4 separate regions of the Homo sapiens genome follow, and regions 1, 2 and 4 are each linked to region 3. The links come from fine-mapping of genetic effects on gene expression. A gene starts in region 3. Each other region holds a variant in brackets. All regions are shown on one strand. Distances are from middle to middle.

Region 1 (4,567 bases), 40 kb after region 3:
TGTGTTTATGTTGTACATAGTTATTCAAAGACTTACCTCTGAAAAGTGGGAAATTAGCCTTAGTCACTTTTTGAATTCCTCAATATGATTGAAACATTTATTAGTTGCCACTAATTTGATTATCAATTTAAAGGTAGTATTTATTTGCAAGTAAGTCTTAATAAATTGTGGGAGTTTACCAAATGAGTAAATATCTACTGAGTTTTTATCAGGGAATCTGCTACTGAAACATTATTGACAAAACTCATTTCTTTAGAATGAGTGATTATTGGACTGTAAATAGAAATGTATCTAGAAATGTAAATGTCACCTTTGTAAGAATTTTATTAAAGAATTAAAGACTTTTGGCTGGGCGCAGCGGCTCACGCCTGTAATCCCAGCACTTTAGGAGGTTGAGGTGGGTGGATCATGAGGTCAGGAGATCTAGACCATCCTGGCTAACATGGTATGCAACCCCGTCTCTACTAAAAATACAACAAATTAGCTGGGCGTGGTGGCTGGCGCCTGTAGTCCCAGCTACTCGGGAGGCTGAGGCAGGAGAAGGCGTGAAACCGGGAGGTGGAGCTTGCAGTAAGCCAAGATCGCACCACTGCACTCTAGCCCGGGTGACAGAGCGAGACTCCGTCTCAAAAAAAATAAAAATAAAAAAATAAAAAGAATTGAAGACTTTTAAGGATTTACCGTAAAAGATTTATAAGTAGTATTAAAGCCATCATTGCAATTTTTTTTAGTTTTAAGAGATTTAAATGAAGGACATTTCTAAAGACAAAAATATGACAAAAATTATATTTAAGTCTCATCTCGTTAGGTTATTTTCATTTGTGTGTTTTTTTTGTTTTTTTAGTATGTATACGTTAGTTTAACATTGCTCTAAAGTAATGCCTGAGCCTGGGAAATTTATAAAGAAAAGAGGTGTCTTTGGCTCATGGTTCTGCAGACTGTACAAAAAGTGTAGTGCCAGCATCTGCATCTGGTGAAGGCCTCAGGAAGTTTACAATCATGGTAGAAGGCGAAGGGAGAGCAACTAAAAGGGAGCAAGAGTGGGGTTGGTGGTGGGGGAGGTGCCATGCTCTTTTAAACAACCAGCTCCTGTGAACTAATAGAGGGCGAACTCACTTGTTACCTTGGGAGGGCACCAAGCTATTCATGAAGGATCTACCCCCATGACCCTAACACCTCCTACCAGGCCCCACCTCCAACATCGTTTGTCACATTTCTCTCTTTTGCCTCTTCTTCTTCTTTTTTTTTTTTTTTTTTTTTTTTTTGAGATGGAGTCTCCCCCTATACCCCAGGCTGGAGTGCAATGACACAGTCTCTGCTCAGTGCAACCACTGCCTCCCGGGTTCTAGCGATTCTCCTGCCTCAGCCTCCCTAATAGCTGGGCTTATGGGCGCCAGCCACCACGTCCAGCTAATCTTTGTATTTTTAGTAGAGATGGGGTTTCACCATGTTCGTCAGGCTGGTCTCGAACTCCTGACCTCGGGTGATCCACCTGCCTCAGCCTCCCAAAGTGCTGGGATTACAGGCCTGAGCCACCACGTCCAGCCAGATTGTCACATTTCAACATGAGATTTGGAGAGGATAAACATCCTAACTATATCAGTATGTTAAATATACTATCACTTTACAAGTATTTATATTACTGGAGAAGATCAGGTAGCTCTTGGGAAATGGTTAATTATACTTTTGTCCAATATTAAAAATATTCATATTTTTAAATATTTTACTTTTGCTAACTTAGAGAAAATATATATTTCCAGTGCTTTTGACATTTGTTTCTAACTATTCCTTCCTCATAGAAAAGGGTTTTTGTATGAGAGGAGACATGTGTCCTTTTGATCATGGAAGTGATCCAGTAGTTGTAGAAGATGTGAATCTTCCTGGTATGCTGCCTTTCCCAGCACAGCCTCCTGTTGTTGAAGGACCACCTCCTCCTGGACTCCCCCCACCTCCACCAATTCTTACACCCCCACCTGTGAATCTCAGGCCCCCAGTACCACCGCCAGGTCCATTGCCACCCAGTCTCCCACCTGTTACAGGTAAGTAAATCTGTTTGTTTCCCTGTATTTATCTAGCCATTCTTAGTCTATTTTTAAAACTTAATAGATTCTTAAATTAAAAGTATCTAAAGGAATCCCAAAAATGCCTGATAGAAATTAATAGCAGTATACTTCCATTTGGAATACACCTCCACTTTGTAGCCTGTGCCAAGCCAGTTACTATGGTTTGGAGTGACCCTGTGAATTAAGTATATCACTGGTAAAACCCAGCTGCCTG[C/T]AGGCCTTCATAGCTTAAGGCAAACCTGCTTTGGAATGTATTAAAAGGATATTTTACCCTGGATATCTAATTCAGTTGTAAGGGCTTGGTGTTTGTAGATATTATAGTTTGATAAATGAGAAGATTATGTTCGGATGTGCAATAACTTGTTTTATTTGTTTGCTTTCAGATGATATTTCTTATTCTTTGGTTTTGACAGGACCACCACCTCCACTTCCTCCTTTGCAGCCATCTGGCATGGATGCTCCTCCAAACTCTGCAACCAGTTCTGTTCCTACTGTAGTAACAACTGGCATTCATCACCAGCCTCCTCCTGCTCCACCCTCTCTTTTTACTGCAGGTGCAGTTTTGGCCCTTTTTATATTCGTAATGTAACACAGTTTTAGATGAAGAATTTTAAAATGTCTAGAGAGAATTGCTCTGTGAGGACTACTTTTCTCACTAAAATTATGTAGCCGTGGTGAATGAACATTAAATAAGCCCTCAGTTTTGAATGTTTTCAAAAAAACATTTTCTTTTTAATAACTTTTTTAAATAAAGTTATTTTCTTTTTGATACATATAGAGCATGTTATATGTTAATATGTTATATTGTTTACTTTTTCTCTTATCAATATTAAAAAATTACCAAGTGGAGTTTTATAATTGTTTTTTAATTACAGTTTTTGTATTACCAGATACATATGACACAGATGGCTACAATCCTGAAGCCCCAAGCATAACAAACACTTCCAGACCTATGTATAGACACAGAGTGCATGCACAAAGGCCCAACTTGATAGGACTAACATCAGGGGATATGGATTTGCCACCCAGAGGTACTATAATTAATCTTTCCTTCCTGTCATTTTCATAATATAAACAGTGGGAAAACATTTATAAAGAACAGTTGGTCTTGCCTTTATTGGGGTTGGATAAGGAATGGTGATTTATTTTATTTCATTTTATTTTTGGAGACAGAGTCTCACTCTGTGGCCTAGGCTGGAGTGCAGTAGCGTGATCTCAGCTCACTCTAACCTTTGCCTCCCCTTTAAGTGATTTTCCTGCCTCAGCCTCCTGAGTAACTGGGATCACAAGTGCCTGCCACCATGCCCAGCTAGTTTTTGTATTTTTAGTAGAGATGGGATTTCACCGTATTGGCCAGGCTGGTCTTGAACTTCTCTGACCTCAAGTGATCCGCCCGCCTTGGCTTCCCAAAGTGCTGGGATTATAGGCTTGAGCCCCCGTGACTGGCTGGGATGGCGATTTTGTTTGTTCCCTGTATCCTTCGTTCCCCCGTTGGAGAAAATATACTGTGTAATTCTGTATTTGTGGTAGAGGTGACACTTTATTATACAATTATTACACTGTCCAAGAAGGAAAGGAATTTCCTTAAAGAAGCACATTTTCTTGGGTAGCCTTTTTTTTTTTAGTAATTTGTATCATTTGTAATCTTGAGAGTAACGCTTTAATTCCTAAAGATAAGTTTATTCCTAGTTTGAAAAATCAAATAGTGCTTGGTATTTATTTTTGCTGACTCTTCACCTGTTAAAATTTGATATTAGTTTGCGTATATTTTTAAGCAAAGGATATCATGTGTTAAGAAATGACTCTTAAAATTTTCTTAGAGGAGACAGACTTTTGGATAAAATTTCTAAAAGGTACAATTTGGGTTGACATAGTCACAAGCTAGGGCAGCAAAGTGCCCTACATCTAGAGTGCCCTACATCTAGAGTGCTACACTAGAGATGTAAATGTAAACTAATAAGATTCAGAGGGAGAAAGTTCACATTAATTTGGAAAATACAGTATTTGCTACAGATCACATTTGATATAGGGAAATGAAGGATTGTCAGACATAATGGAAAATATTTCCTGGGCTAACAAAAAATATATCTTTTTCCCTAACCACCTCAATTAAGTTTTAAATCCCATTTTCTTTCCAGTCTTTTCTTGTCTTACCTAGTCAGAATTAAAAAATCATGCTTCGTCAGTTGTGAATAAAAGTCTTAGTTAGTAAGTAACAGTGCCTAATGGAGTTTGGTAAATGTGTGATTACTTACATATACTTTGTGTTTTTTCTTTTATTCATTGGAAGCTAGCTATCAGATTCTGAGCATCTTCCTTGAATGTTTAAAGGACTTTTTGTAATGAAGGTGTAAGGAATGTTTTAATTCAGATTTATATCCTCTTTTAGATCATAGGACAACATTTAATGTGGATACCCATTCCTCTTAAATTCTCTTTGAGGAATTTCAATAGCTATTATTAACAACAATAGAAAAAAGATTTTTTTTAACAGCTTGTATGTG
Region 2 (4,567 bases), 57 kb after region 3:
TATGTATCAAAACATCACACTGTACCCCATAAATATGTACAGTTCTGTCAATTAAATGTAAAATAAAATTTAACACTAAGTTCAGCTGTACTTAGTGTACTACTGAGAAATTCTAGAGACATCTAAAATGCTCAGTTATATTTGGAGTCTGTAATGTCAGATTTGGACTTTTGAAATTGAAGTGTGTACTCATAGCTTTTATAAAATTTTTGCAGTGTATTGTGAGTACAAATTTGTAGTTGATAATATAACTTTACTAATGCATAGACTAATATATATACCCATATATTATGCTAATGCAATAAACTACTAACTGAATTTTTATGGGAAAAAAATCATTTATGGTAGCAAGCTATTTATGGGGAAAAATATTTTTGATAAATACCGTAAACAGCCTATTAAGGAAAACAGTAAGTATGTAACTTTTATTCATCTTCAGTGAGTGTCTTTACAGAGAAACATTTTATTTTTGCTTATTTTTGTTGTTTCTGTTCCCCTAATCCTTAGGGGGTTTGGGTCCAAAATACTTACAGGGCAGTGATTCAAAGAAGTCTTAGAAAGAATAGAAGAATGTTCCCCATCATCAAATATTAGTTGAAAGATTCTTTTTTTAAAAAAAATGAAGGCAGGGGAAAACCCAAAGCTTGTATCTATACAGTATCCTATGTCATTATTAAACTAAATAAATACACAAATGTAACATTTTATACCTTCCCTATCAACAACACACAGTAAAACCTTTAGTGATTATTCTTTATCCTGAGACCCCATTTTCGTGAGGAGGCTAGAAGAGAGGAAAGTTAAAACGTAATTGCTGCTGGTAAATATGAAGATATTGCAAGAGGTATTTAGTTATTATGTGAATAGATTTGATAAATTATGTTTGAGTGCCTCTGCTTACTAAAGAAATTCATGAAGAATAAAGGGCTACATCTGTGTATACTGTCCTGGTTAGTTTTTTAAAACAGACTTAAGACCGTTCAAATTATCTTGCTGAATCCCTTCTAAATTCTAAGAAGGCAAACTGCGTAACCAGTGGAATATTTAATCTTCTTTATCATATCAGCTTTAAATATCAGATTTATGATACAGGATGTTATTGTTCTTGTGGTTTTTGCAATGTAAAAATATATCTTGGTCTCTGCATGATGATATATTAACATCTATACCATGGAACTTTTAAAAGGAAAATTGTGTGGTATAATTAAAAGAATATTGCATGTTATAGAGAAACTTCACCTGTTGATTTAGCAGGTGCCATTGTGTAGATGCTAAGCAAATCTTAATATGTTTCCTTGGATTTTTGAAATTTGAATTTGTTGTGTAACTTTGCTAGTTAAAAGATTTAGAGGGATTTGGCTGGGCGCATGGCTCACGCTTGTAATCCCAGCACTTTGGGAGGCCGAGGTAGGCAGATCACGAGGTCAGGAGTTCGAGACCAGCCTGGCCAATACAGTGAAACCCTGTCTCTTCTAAAAATACAAAAATTAGCTGGGCCTCGTGGCGGGCGCCTGTAATCCCAGCTACTTGGGAGGCTGGCAGGAGAATCACTTGAACCAGGGAGGTGGAGGTTGCAATGAGCCGAGATGGCGCCACTGCACCCCAGCCTGGGTGGCAGAGCTAGACTCTGTCTCAAAAAAAAAAAAAAGAGTGGGATTTATCATAGTTTTTTTTTCTTAACTGTTATTGACTATTTTTAATTTTTATTTTTTAATTCAGTGGCCTCTCAGGATTATTACCTGCATTTTTTTTTCAGGAAAATA[T/C]GAAATTAATTTATTTGAGTGTATTAGCTTTGCTGAACTTTGTAGTAACTAAGCTATTTGTGTAGCAAAAATTCATTACTAGCTGTACATATTTTTTACTTTGATGTTTGTTAAAATATTTCTCTGCAAGTTTTTTAATCTTTGTTTCTTTTAATCCCTTTGTCTATTTCACTTATATGTGGAATCTTAAAAAGTTGAACTCATAGAAGCAGAGAGTAGAATGGTGGTTACCAGTGGCTGAGGACAGGGGATTGGGAAATGTTGGTCAAAAGATATAAAACTTCAGTTAGATAGAAGAAATAAATTAAAGATATCTATAGTACAACGTGGTGACTATAGTTAATAACAATGTGTTGCATTCTTGAAAATTGCCAAGAAAGCAGCTCACCACAAAAAAAAGTGACGTAATACAAATGTTAATTAGCTTGACTTAGCCATTTTACAGTGTATATATTTCAAACAGCATGTTGTACATGATAAATACACAGACAGTCATCAACTTACGGTGACTTGACTAACAGTTTTTCAATTTGATGATGCATTTATTACTTACAAGTTGAAAATGTATTTTCAACTTAAATGGTATTTCAGCTTACAATGGATATAGCCCCATCATAAGTTAAGGGACATCTCTATACAGTTTTTGTCAATTAAAAGAATAAAATTTTGAAAGCTACAAAAAAGATAAGGTAGATCAGTGCATTAAAACATACTTTGTGTTCTTGAAATTTAAAAACGATTAATATCTAAAAGTATGTATAAACTTAACTTTAAACCAAAATCCCATTCTTCTCACCAGAATTCTCAGGTTTGATACAGAACGCACATCTGTGTGCTGCTTTAAGTGAATATCATAAACGAACATTCAGATTTACTGAACAGGTGACTACTTACTATGAAAACTGACCATACAGTAACTGTATTAATACGTTTCCTACACATAGCTCCTCATACTGTCTTTTGATTGCATTAAACCAATGTATTTCTGCTTTAAAAACCTGTTGGAGCTATTTATTGTGAGTGTGGCTGCTAGACATCATAACTATATTTGTATTTAATTTCTACTTAGGCATTGGTTATTGAAAAATCATACTCGGATAACTTAATTTTACAAAATACTTTTTCCCTTCCATTCTTATCTATGAAAAACAGCTGTTTTTCTCTTTCTTTACGATTACTTATAGTTATTGTGGCTGGTATTATTTTACATAGGAAATAAAATAAGGAGGTGTTAATGGATTGTAACCTCCCTCTCTTTAGGGAAAATAAGAGGTATTAGTGCTATACATTTTAACAACACAGCACATGATACTTTTCAACTTATTTTCTGAGTTCAGCATACCAAACCTGACAATATACTATAAGAAAGGAAAATTACAGACCAACATCTGTCATGAACATAGACACAAATATCCTAGAGAAAATATTAGCAAATGTCCAGTGATACATGAAATACATAATCATTCATGGCCAGGTAGTATTTATTCCAGAAATTCAAGGTTGATTTACCATTGGAAAAATCAGTTTAATTGATGTTAGTAGAATGAGGGAGGAAAAAACTCTAGATGATTAGCTCAGTAGAGAAAGTGTTCTGTTACTTAGTTACATTAAACACTCTGCAAAGGAGGAATAGAGAAAAACTGTTTTAATTTGATGAAGGAAATCTGCAATAAAAGAAAAAAAACTACAGCTAACATAATATTCAATTGTGAAATATTGACTGTTTTTCCTTGAGGTTGGGAAAGACAAGGATGTCCATTTGCATCACTTTTATTTTTTTTAGTATTGTACTGGAGAGACTCATGGGTGCACTAAGGAAGGAAAATAGAATAAACCATATAAAGATTGGAAATAAAACTGTTTACTTGCAGATGACATGGTTGTAGATATAGAAAATTCAAAATAATTCACACAGTTGGGATTAAGTAAGTGTAGTAAGATGTATAGAAGTAAATATGTAAAAATTATAGCACATATAGAAATGCATTTGGAATATAGAAATGTGGTTGTTTGGAGAAGTCACTGTCTCTGTTCTTAGGAATTGGAGTATCTTCTTTTCTGTTGGGCTCGTTACTTCCCTCCACTAATTTCAGTTTTAATAGATTTTCTTCTTTTGAAAATACATGTGTCTCTTACTATCCAAACTGTCTAATCTCCAGAACCAGATAGATTCAAATAGTGAACAATATAGTTCATTGTTTATAAGTCACATTTTTACATTTTAACACCTCTGACGTTGGGCTGTGTCTTATAATTGTTAGACACAGGTTATGATTGGCAGCCTTTTTTTCTTTAGTAGGGGTACATAAATGATAGTTTGTCTTACAGTCACTGAGTTGTAGCCTTAGTGAGTCACATTCGTGGATGTTCTAGTTTTACAGAAGGATGTTCCTGGATAAAAAAGGAAATGGGAATACTTCTAGGAATAAAGGAGTCTTATCATTGTCAGATACTTTTATTCACTTTGAACCAGCACTCCTTAGTCTGATACTACATGTCAAAAATGATTTGAAAAGGAGTATTCTCACTGAAACTGGAGAAATACTTGGTTAAATAAATTATATGGGTTTGTTCTTGGCTTCTCACTGCTTTTATTATGAAGATAATATAAATTAAAAACTGGAAAATTGGGTTACGATATTCATTGTTTCACACTTAAATAATTAGGAGTTTTTTCTTTTGGCCACAACTTTTCAACTTATGGAATCCTCATGAAGAAAACAGTTTGTGAAACTTAATTAGGCTCTGTTTTCAGTTTATCCTGTGTTTCTCTACTAATATATTGTCTTGTCTTTGTATAGTCA
Region 3 (4,567 bases):
ACATCTACCTGTCTTGCTGCCACTGAAGACCATGCTTCTGTCTGTAAGTTACCCCCAACAAAACACTCTTTACTGACCAAACTGGATTTGTCTGCTTTGTTCATTTGATTTCTCCTTTGATGTTTGGGGGGCACTTTGCATAAAGGGCCTTTTCATGGAACAACTTATTTTAAGGAACTCAAAATAGTTTAGGATGGCTGGAGCAAAGACTGAAAGGAGTTTCTAGGCAAAAAGGAAGGTGTCTGATTTATGAAAGTCCCTTTATAGGATGTTAAATAATGTGTTTTATTCTAAAGATAATGTGGAAGTTGAAGATTTTAAGCAAGAAAGTGACATGATTAGATCAAAATTTTAGAATTACTGCTATTAAAGGCAATGATGATGAGGGCAACTGAAGATGAACTGAGATGGAGGTCAGCATAAAAGGCAAAGATATTAAAAGGCTTTTGCTATTATTTAGGAAGAATAAAAGACTTTAAATAAGACAGTGACAGTGGTATGAGAGATGGATGGGCAAAGTTTGAGCAGTCAGGGAAAGAAGTAGAAGCGTTCTCTGTGGAAAATAAAGTGAACAAATGTTTGGAGAAAGGGAGGGTGAGCAAATCAGTTTATCTGGGGTATACAGTATTTGATAGAAGCTTTGGAAGGCTGAAGTGGAGAGCCAGAGTAATGGAGTAGCTGGTGATAAGGTTGAAAATATTGGTGGCGTCAGCCTGTGGCAAGGCTACAACAAACAGACTAAACAAATATAATTTTAACTTTCGGCAGTATTAAATTTATAAACAATTTTTATTGTAAAATACATATAAAACCTACCGTTTTCATTAAGTATATGGTCCACTGCATTAAGTACATTCATATTGTGCAACCCACACAACACCACTCATCTCCAGAATCTAAATCATCCTAAACTGAAACTCTATTATCCACTGAAATATAACTCCTCATTTCCCCTTCTCCTGGGCACCCTCTCCACCCCTGCTCTTGCTACCATTCCACCTTCTGTCTCTAGGAGTTTTGACTACTCTAGGTACTTAATGTAAGTGGAATCATAATATTTGTCCTTTCATGTCTGGTTTATTTCACTCAGCTAAATCACTTTAATCAACACCCTGGTTATTCAGTAGCTGGATTCTAATTTGTATTCTACTCTATATGCTGTATTTTAAAACAAATGTCTTGCTTTGTAGTTCATAATCTTTCCACCTAATCCTTAAAGACACTTCACTCTAGCAAATTATAAACTCAAGAGTTCCTAAGAACAATTTAGCCTATCGGTGTCTCTCATAAAGAGCTTTTATTGATCTACTTACTGAAAATGTCTTTAGATTGTGAATATTTTCATTCCATTACAGTTCATGGAACGTAGACCCTTTGTAAAATTCCACCTAGTATCTAAATAGAACTCAAGCAGGAATCAAACTTATTTGATCACCCAGGAAAATAGTTTATTTATTTGGGTTGCTAATATGAAGACTCTCTCTTTTGATACTATATAATTTCCCGATCTGAGATAGGGCTGAATTTGCTCTAAATAAAGAGAATTTTAAAAATAACAAAACTTATCTTTAGCTGGGGGAAAGTGCAGGCTGGAAACTACCTGAGAGACGTGAAGGTTCTCTCACCTTTCCCTTGTGGGCAGCCCTCAGTCATTAGGGCTCTACCAGCAAGTCAAGTACTGTTGGACAAGACACTAATCCTCTGGCGGTCTCATTGGGCTCCATTAGACCAGCCTGTGTTTACAAACCTCGTTCACATCACAGCATACACAGAATATGATACTGGTAGGGCACTTAGGTAAACTGAGGAGGTAGTGTGCTCGGCACCTGGAACCTACGGGCCGCCTGGTGTCGCGCACGCGGGAGTGTACGCTCTCAAAGAGCGATCCATCCGGCAGGACCGTTCCAGCTGACAGGCCACGGCCGTCTTACCGGGGACGAGCTGGGGTTCCCGCTGTTTCTGAAGTCAGCGGTCTTTTCCTCCTTGTAAGAAATAAGGTCTTTATATCATAAAGGTAAGCAAAGAATAAAAAGGCACAAAGGCCGCAAGCAACGCACACACGCAAAAATCGAACTACAGCACTCGACCCGCGCATTCTCCGCCGACCTTACGTCTCTCCCAGCAGGCTCCGGGAGCCACCGCGAGACTTCATCAATTCTCGCGAGATTTACCGGCAGCCATCTTCTTGGGGGTGCTGGGAGCCGGGAAGACCCCCTGAATCGTTCCCATTGAGCTGCCCTTCGCCTTCGCTTTCTTTACTTTTGCCTTTTCGACGTAGCCAACAAGCACCTGGTCCCGAGGCTGAGAGAAGGCTCGGGTCTAAGCGCGTGTCGCGCTTCCGGTCTGGGTAGATTTGCTGGGGAAGAGGGAAGGGGGAGGGCCCGGGCAAACCGTTGCTGTTTCAGCCCGGGCTGGGGGCCGGGGACGGGGAGCTCCTGGCACCCCGTGCACTTGTGGCCTGCGGCGGTCCTTGCAGAGCTGTTCGCCGACCGGGGCCCGCGGGAACCTGCCACCGGCGCCTCCCACCGCGGCCCACGCGGGCGGCGCGCGGAGGAGGGGGCGGGGGCAGCGGCGGCTGTAGCGGCCGCGACCTGGGCGGGCGGAGGAGTGTGACGGGCCTTAGGGCCGCTGTGGATGGTTTCTAAAATGATCATTGAAAACTTCGAGGCACTCAAGTCCTGGCTCAGCAAGACTCTCGAGCCCATGTGAGTATCCGGGGGATATCTCTTTGCAGGGATGGCAGTGGGAGATAGGCGGACCCAGAGATCTGTGCAGTTTCCCCAAGTGCCTGCGGTGGAGGCCGAAGCGGTGAACGGAGGTCCCAGGGTTCTGTGGCTTCTCCTCCTCGTCCACCTCGCTTCCAGATTCAGGATACCCCCGAGAGCCTGAGTCGAGCTTTATTTTATTGCTGAGCTGCTCTCGTTTTCCCGTTATATATAGACCGTCTCCAACCCCCACCCGCAATATTTTCCGGGGGCCTCAAAATCGGTTTATTTTAGTGAAACCGACTGTATTTTACTTCCTACAGATTATTTTACCTTGTTTTTCTAAATGAAGTAGACGGCCTTTATTGGGGATTCGGGCAGTTCTAGCTTAAATCACTCACGTTTCACCTAAATATAATTCCTGAAAGCAAGGCCACGTCTCCCATGTGCTGTCTGGCTCATCTGCACCTCTCTTCACTGATTGAAGATGTAACAGGTGCTGAGGTGGCCAGTAAAATTCCCCTTTCCCGCCTACGCGTTCGTTAGCTTGGAGAGGAGGAAGAAAATTGAATCTTCATCCATATGGAATATTTAGCAGTTTTAAGTGGGATGCTATAGATAGATTTTGTGTTGGGGGCTGCGGTTAGAGTGCTGAAATAGTCTTAGATTGGAAAATTTAAGGAGTGTTTTGACGACTTGTTAATACAAAATATGACATGGACCAAAGTGCTTAATCAGAATTGGTTGATTTACAATAATGCAATGGGGAAAATTCACGTATTTAATAAAGTTATTAGGTACCTACTGTATACTACGGGAGGCTTTGGGGATAGAGCTTTTAAATTCTAAAATCGACAAGACATAAATAAATCCAGATATTAATAGAGTTGTGACTATTGTAATAATAGAGAATCATGTAAAAGTGATTATGAGGGGGGCTATTTCACATTGGTCAAGGAAGGACTCTCAGAGAAGGTGACATTGGAGTAACATCTAAAGAGAAGGGACCATGTGTGTCAAAGTCTTGGAAAAGAACATTCCTTGCAAAAGGAAGAGCAAATGAAAGGCCCTGTAGCAGAAGTGATTGTGGTGTGTTTCAGGAAGAGAAAGGCCACTGTGGCTGGAAAGAGCCTTGTGATGAGGGAGAGGATATAAAGGCAACAAGTTGGACAAGTAGGTAGGGGCCACATCATGTATGGGAAGACGTGAGATGATTTAAAGCAGACAAGGACTGATTTAATTTTGTTTTAACTCTGCCTATTTTGTAGAGACTGAAAGGGCAAGAATGGAAGTAAGAAGATTATTCAGAAGTGTGTTGTAGGCAGAGATGTGGCTAGTTTGCATTAGAGTGATGGTGGAGACAGGCAGATCCAAATACATTTCATAAGTAAAATTAATGGATTAAATGCGGGAGATGAGGGAAAGGGAAATCAAGGGTGGTGCCTTAGATAACCCAAGCAACAGAATGGGTGATATTAGAGAAGGCAGAGAACAGGTTAAGGGGAGAAGGAAAGTGGATGGCTAGTTTTGATAATAATAAATACAGTAAGTATGAAGTCTGTGGGATACAGCTAAGTGTGATAGCAGATCATTGAATATATGAGTCTAAAACTCAGGACAGGACTGGAGAAATCTGGAGTCATGCAGATAGTATTTAAGACGATGACATTGTGGGAAATTTCATAGAAAAAGTGTGTAGGTAGGGAAGAGAAGAGGGCCTAGTACTGAGGCAGGAGGAAAACTGGGCTTTATGTCATTAAAAAACAAGTGTATGGCAAAAGAGAGGAGTTTATGAAATGCTGCAGAATGCATGAAAAAATGGAGGCAAATAGGTAGCCCTTAGATTTAGCAAAGTGGAAGTC
Region 4 (4,567 bases), 110 kb after region 3:
GACTGGAGCTGTTCCTATTAGGCCATCTTGGAACATCCCTCTGCCTGCTTGCTTGTTAGTAACGAATATGGGAGTCAAAGGAAGGTAAGGACATAGAGAGAGAGTATAGACAAGTTTTTTCAGAAGATTTTTTAAGGGTGGAAGAGAGATAGGATTGTAGTTTGCAAGTCAGGGGGGATAAAGGGAAGCCAGGGAATTATGTTTAAATCTCTACAGAAAGGAGTCTCAAGACAGAGTGAGCAATAATAATAGTTTAAGGCAGCCAAAAAGATCGGATGAGAAAAAATCTGAAGCACAATTATAGGAACTGCCCTTAGACAGAAGTAGAAACAATCAAGGTGAGGGGAAAAAAAGTTCATTCCGCTTTTAGGTTTGGCAGTGGAATTAAGGGAGTCCCCATCAGATGTCTTCAGTTTTCCTTGCAACCCAGTAGACATGTAATTTGCTGCCTAGTCCCCACCTGCATAACTCCTGAATATCACCCCTCTTTCGCCATCTTTCCCAGTTATACCTGGTAATCCTCTAGAATATCTGGTCTCAACTACTCCCCTCATGTTCTTCCATTCCAAACTCATCAGGAACCTTCACCATGGTCTTCACTCCAATCATAGTGGCCTCTGTGAAAGCACTGCTGTGCTGGGGTTACTCAGCCCCCATTATCCCCCCTACCTCTACCCTATACCTTCGGGGCACCAGGGCTGTGCTGTGGTCTGAAGAAGTCAATGACCCATCCCAACTCTGTCAGTCTTTGTTGCTGTGACCCAGTGTACAGCATCTGTTCAGAGCTCAAGCATGATATGGCTGACAGATACGGTCTTTTGAACACAGCTCCTATTTTCTACCTAAACTTCTGCAGCTAGTGGGTAGACAAACATCTTGCCATCCCTCCATAATTCTTCTTTTCTGCTTTATCCACTCTCTTTCCTAATATCTTATATTTTTAAAGTTCCCTGACTATCAATTCATGAAAATAAGTACTCAGAGGAGTGGCAAGGATCATGAAGTGATTAAAATGTAAAGGATTTTAAGGAAAATAGGAGAAATTAGGACAGGAGTCTAAATAGCAAAGTTCAGAGCATGGTAAGAACTTTGAACTTCATTGTGAGGTGCTGGGGAGCCACCTAAATGTCTGAAAGTTTGAGAGAAAGAGGCTGGGACACAAGAAGGGCAGGGATGAGGATGGGGAATAGTAAAATGATTAGATTTGCAGTTTTTAATGATCTCTTTCATAATGGTGAGGAGGATAAATTGGAAGCATGGAGAACATTGGGCATAAAAGGGACAGTTAGGAGACTCCAAGTCTCTGGGCTGAGCAACAAAGTTGATGGCTGTGTGATACACTGAGATTGAACATGTGGGGTTGGGAACAGGTTTATAGGACAAGAGAAGGAGTTGAATTTGTTTTTGACATTTTAACCTTGTGGAATATCAAAGTGGAAATATCCTGTAGGCAGATATCTGCTATCTGAAGCACAGAAGAGACATTTAGGCTGCAGACATAGGTGTGAGAACCACATATATGAAAGAGATTCCTCAGAGAGCACATGCAGCACGTGAAGAGGGAAGGCTAAGGATAGAATCCCGATGAACCCTCAATATTTACAGGACCTAGAGGAGAAGGTACACATGAAGCAGATGAAAAAATTGCTAGAAGAAAAGAAGAGCTAAGTGAGGTGGTGTCACAAAAGCCAAGAAAAGAGAGAAGTTCACAAGCCAGAGCTTGATCAAGTAAGAAGTCAAATAAGATCAAGATGGAGAGGATCTAGCAACTCATAAATCCATATGCAGTTTCATGGGAGGAGAAGACAGACTGATGTAGAATGAAGAGAAACTGGGAAGTTAAGTGGAGACTGAATGTAGGGAACTCAACGTGAACAGTGGAGAGAAGGCAAAATTTAGTATGGTAGCTTAGACTTTGCTAGGTAAAGGAGTGTTTATTTCTTTTTGGAATGGTGGCTACCAAAGACTGAGGGAACTTCATGAACATGTTTTATAGACTGAAAGAAAAGAGACAGGGGAAAGGAAGAGGTTAAAAATGTAAAGGAATTTGTTTATAATGGACAGAGATTTCAGGATGCACCATGGGAAGGGATGGAGAAAAGAGGTTGTGAAAACAGTAATGAGAGTGTGCAAGAATATGGTGCTCAAGGCCTGATGGTTCAAGGACTACTCAAGCATGGTATGGCTGGCAGAAATGCATGGAACTAACTGGACTGTGTTTTTAAGTCAGTTTTGAGAGAAAGTTCTTTTGACTGGAACTGGGGCAGGTATCAAGTACTGGAGTGTGTTGATTGCCATTGGCAACCAATCCCCAGAAATACTAACACAACTGAAATGTTATAATTGTCCATTACAAAATTAAAATGACTTGCCCATAATAAGCA[C/T]GCATAATATTTGTAAAATAAATGAATTAAGCTGCTCTGGATTTTTTGAGGGATTGGGAGAAGGGAAATGGTGAATACTAAAGGTATAGAAAGGAGTACTGGGGAGAGAAAGAATCCCAGGGGAGAAAGATGAGATAACAAAGCCCAGCAGAGAATAAAAACACCTGATGCATGGAAGAAATGCATTTTGTCCATGTTTGCTATAAGTAAAGTACAAAAAAAGTATTTTTTTCTTTGCTCTGAATTGTTTGTTTATTTCAAGGACTGTATCTTCTTGCCTAGGATAATGAAAATCTTTCTAGGGCAGGAGTTGGTTTCTACCACTACTTCCTAAAAACAAGTAGCATAATATGGCTAGAGTAGAGACGTTAAGCATCCGGGTTTACTAACTGTGTGGCCTTAAGCAAATGACTTAGGATATATATTTTAGTCTCCTCATATGTAAAATGCAGCTAAAAATAGCACCTTTTTCACTGAGCTTTGAGAAAAATCAAATGAGATTATGTAGGTTAGAGATTTACTTGAGAGATGGTAATAATTCAATGGATTAGTAATTTTCATAAAAGGCTCACCTTCTCCTATGAGCTCTATGTCTTGGTGAAAAGGAAAGGCCCAGACAGTTCTAATGAAAGTGGATGCTGCGTAGTTCCACCATCCACTCCTAGGGCCTCATTTGAAACGGTAAATTGAATTTACCTTCAGGCCTAGTTAGATTTAGATATAGGGACTCCTGTGGAAAGTCTCAACATTTCTCCATTTCCACTCTAACTACTCCTAATATACTCTGGAGATCCAACCTTCACAGGCATGAAGGCTGTGGAATAGAGACAGTGAGCTCTTTAATGTTTCAGAGAATTCAGGCTGCTGCAAGCAAAAAAGGCTGGGAAGTCCAAACTTATTCCAGGTGAAAAGCAACCACTCTGTGTCTCTTTTTCCATAGCACCTCAGCTTTGTCTGTGTCTTTACTGCATTTCCTCTCTCTACCAGCTGGAAAGTCTTTGTGTTCTTCAGTATAACTTTTGGGGGGATTTTCTAATTAGCTTCACGCATACTGTTGCCCTGTATTCATCAGCTATTGCCAAAAAAAAAAAAAAAAAGCATAATGAAACATTCAACAACTCAGTGGCTTACAATAAGCTTCCATTCTGCACATCTGCAGGTTAACTGCAGTTCAGCTGATCTACCCTAGGGTCAACTGAGAAGATTTGCTCCAAGCCTGTGGGGCTTGCTTTACTTCTGTCCCACGTGTGTTCACACTGGGGCTCAGGCAGGAGGAGCAGCAGAGTCTTGGGCATTCTCCTTTCCTGCATGTAGTTGTAGAATGAGAGGATGACTAGACACATGTCATATCTCAGGAGGCCTCAGTCTGGCACATGTCACATCCACCCATAATCCATCAGCCAAGCCACATACACTCTGCCTACTCTCATAAAGCAATGTCAACTGGCAAAAGCCATGGATGCAGAATTCTAAGGCAGGAAATTTTGAAGAATGGCAAAAGAGGTTTGAAACAACTATAATCCATATGCATGAGGTGCCCACTCTCATCTAATCTTTGTATGTACTTACACAGAAGGCAGCTGAGTAGCACAGCCCACCGTGCCCATGGGCCAATGCGCATGATGCAGTATGACTCACATATCTAGTGTGTGAACACAAGGAAATGTGTAAATATCATGAGGAAAAAGAATAGAAGGGAACAGATTGCTTTTATTACTCATAAAACTTCACCATGAATTTGTTTCTAAAAGGAAAAAGACCAGTCAAGTCTGTTTGGAGGTACATTTATTGAAGAAGATGAGTTATAATTCAAAAGGAATAAAGTTATGAACCCCCAAAGAGTTGAGACTTAACAAACAACTATGGGAGATCCTTGCTGTAGATGCTTCTCATGTGCACGAATTTCAGTTACCACAGTTTTCGTAAATAACACCAGTCCTTCATGATTAAAAATCAGTTACCATAGTATATCAACTGTGGTTAATTGTATAAAGTACAAACTTCATTATTAGCTCTTTAATCTGCAAATCACTGTGTAAATAAGAGACCTGCATCTTGATCACTGAACAGTCATGTTGCTTCTTTCAAAGTCTGTCAGTGATTGGTTACTGTGCATCTTTTATTCAGTTCGTGCACATACAGCAAAGCATGTAGTTGTGTAGTTTTCTTGTCTCCCAATTACA

Which allele goes with the higher level. Positions count from the first base shown, and alleles are read on the strand shown. Sizes are in standard deviations (SD) of each study's normalised expression. Not every link is listed here.
As copies of C replace T in region 1, the expression in follicular helper T cells of the gene that starts at base 2,154 in region 3 goes up (large effect, 0.85 SD a copy in Schmiedel 2018).

What was found. PIP is the estimated chance that this variant, and not a neighbour inherited with it, causes the effect.
Region 1: its variant is the best candidate, but not a certain one, in a credible set for the expression of RBM26 in follicular helper T cells (Schmiedel 2018, PIP 0.64).
Region 2: its variant is the best candidate, but not a certain one, in a credible set for the expression of RBM26 in stomach (GTEx, PIP 0.70).
Region 4: its variant is the best candidate, but not a certain one, in a credible set for the expression of RBM26 in whole blood (INTERVAL, PIP 0.89).

The regions. Positions count from the first base shown.
Region 1 is chr13:79,364,105-79,368,671 of GRCh38, reverse strand. It overlaps RBM26 (RNA binding motif protein 26), which reads left to right. Exons shown (of 22, transcript NM_001366735.2): 7 at 1,800-2,039; 8 at 2,477-2,617; 9 at 2,954-3,094. Among named protein-coding and RNA genes, the nearest start is that of RBM26, 40 kb to the left of the region's middle. The variant C/T (reference allele first, on the strand shown) is at 2,278.
Region 2 is chr13:79,346,785-79,351,351 of GRCh38, reverse strand. The region is part of intron 14 of RBM26 (RNA binding motif protein 26); the gene reads left to right. Among named protein-coding and RNA genes, the nearest start is that of RBM26, 57 kb to the left of the region's middle. The variant T/C (reference allele first, on the strand shown) is at 1,764.
Region 3 is chr13:79,403,842-79,408,408 of GRCh38, reverse strand. It overlaps RBM26 (RNA binding motif protein 26), which reads left to right and starts at 2,154. Exons shown (of 22, transcript NM_001366735.2): 1 at 2,154-2,705. The coding sequence starts at 2,635. RBM26-AS1 (RBM26 antisense RNA 1) reads right to left here and starts at 2,100. Exons shown (of 7, transcript NR_038991.1): 1 at 1,932-2,100. RefSeq lists enhancers at 1,869-2,168, 1,498-2,489 and a silencer at 2,399-2,598.
Region 4 is chr13:79,295,541-79,300,107 of GRCh38, reverse strand. No RefSeq gene overlaps it. Among named protein-coding and RNA genes, the nearest start is that of RBM26, 110 kb to the left of the region's middle. The variant C/T (reference allele first, on the strand shown) is at 2,385.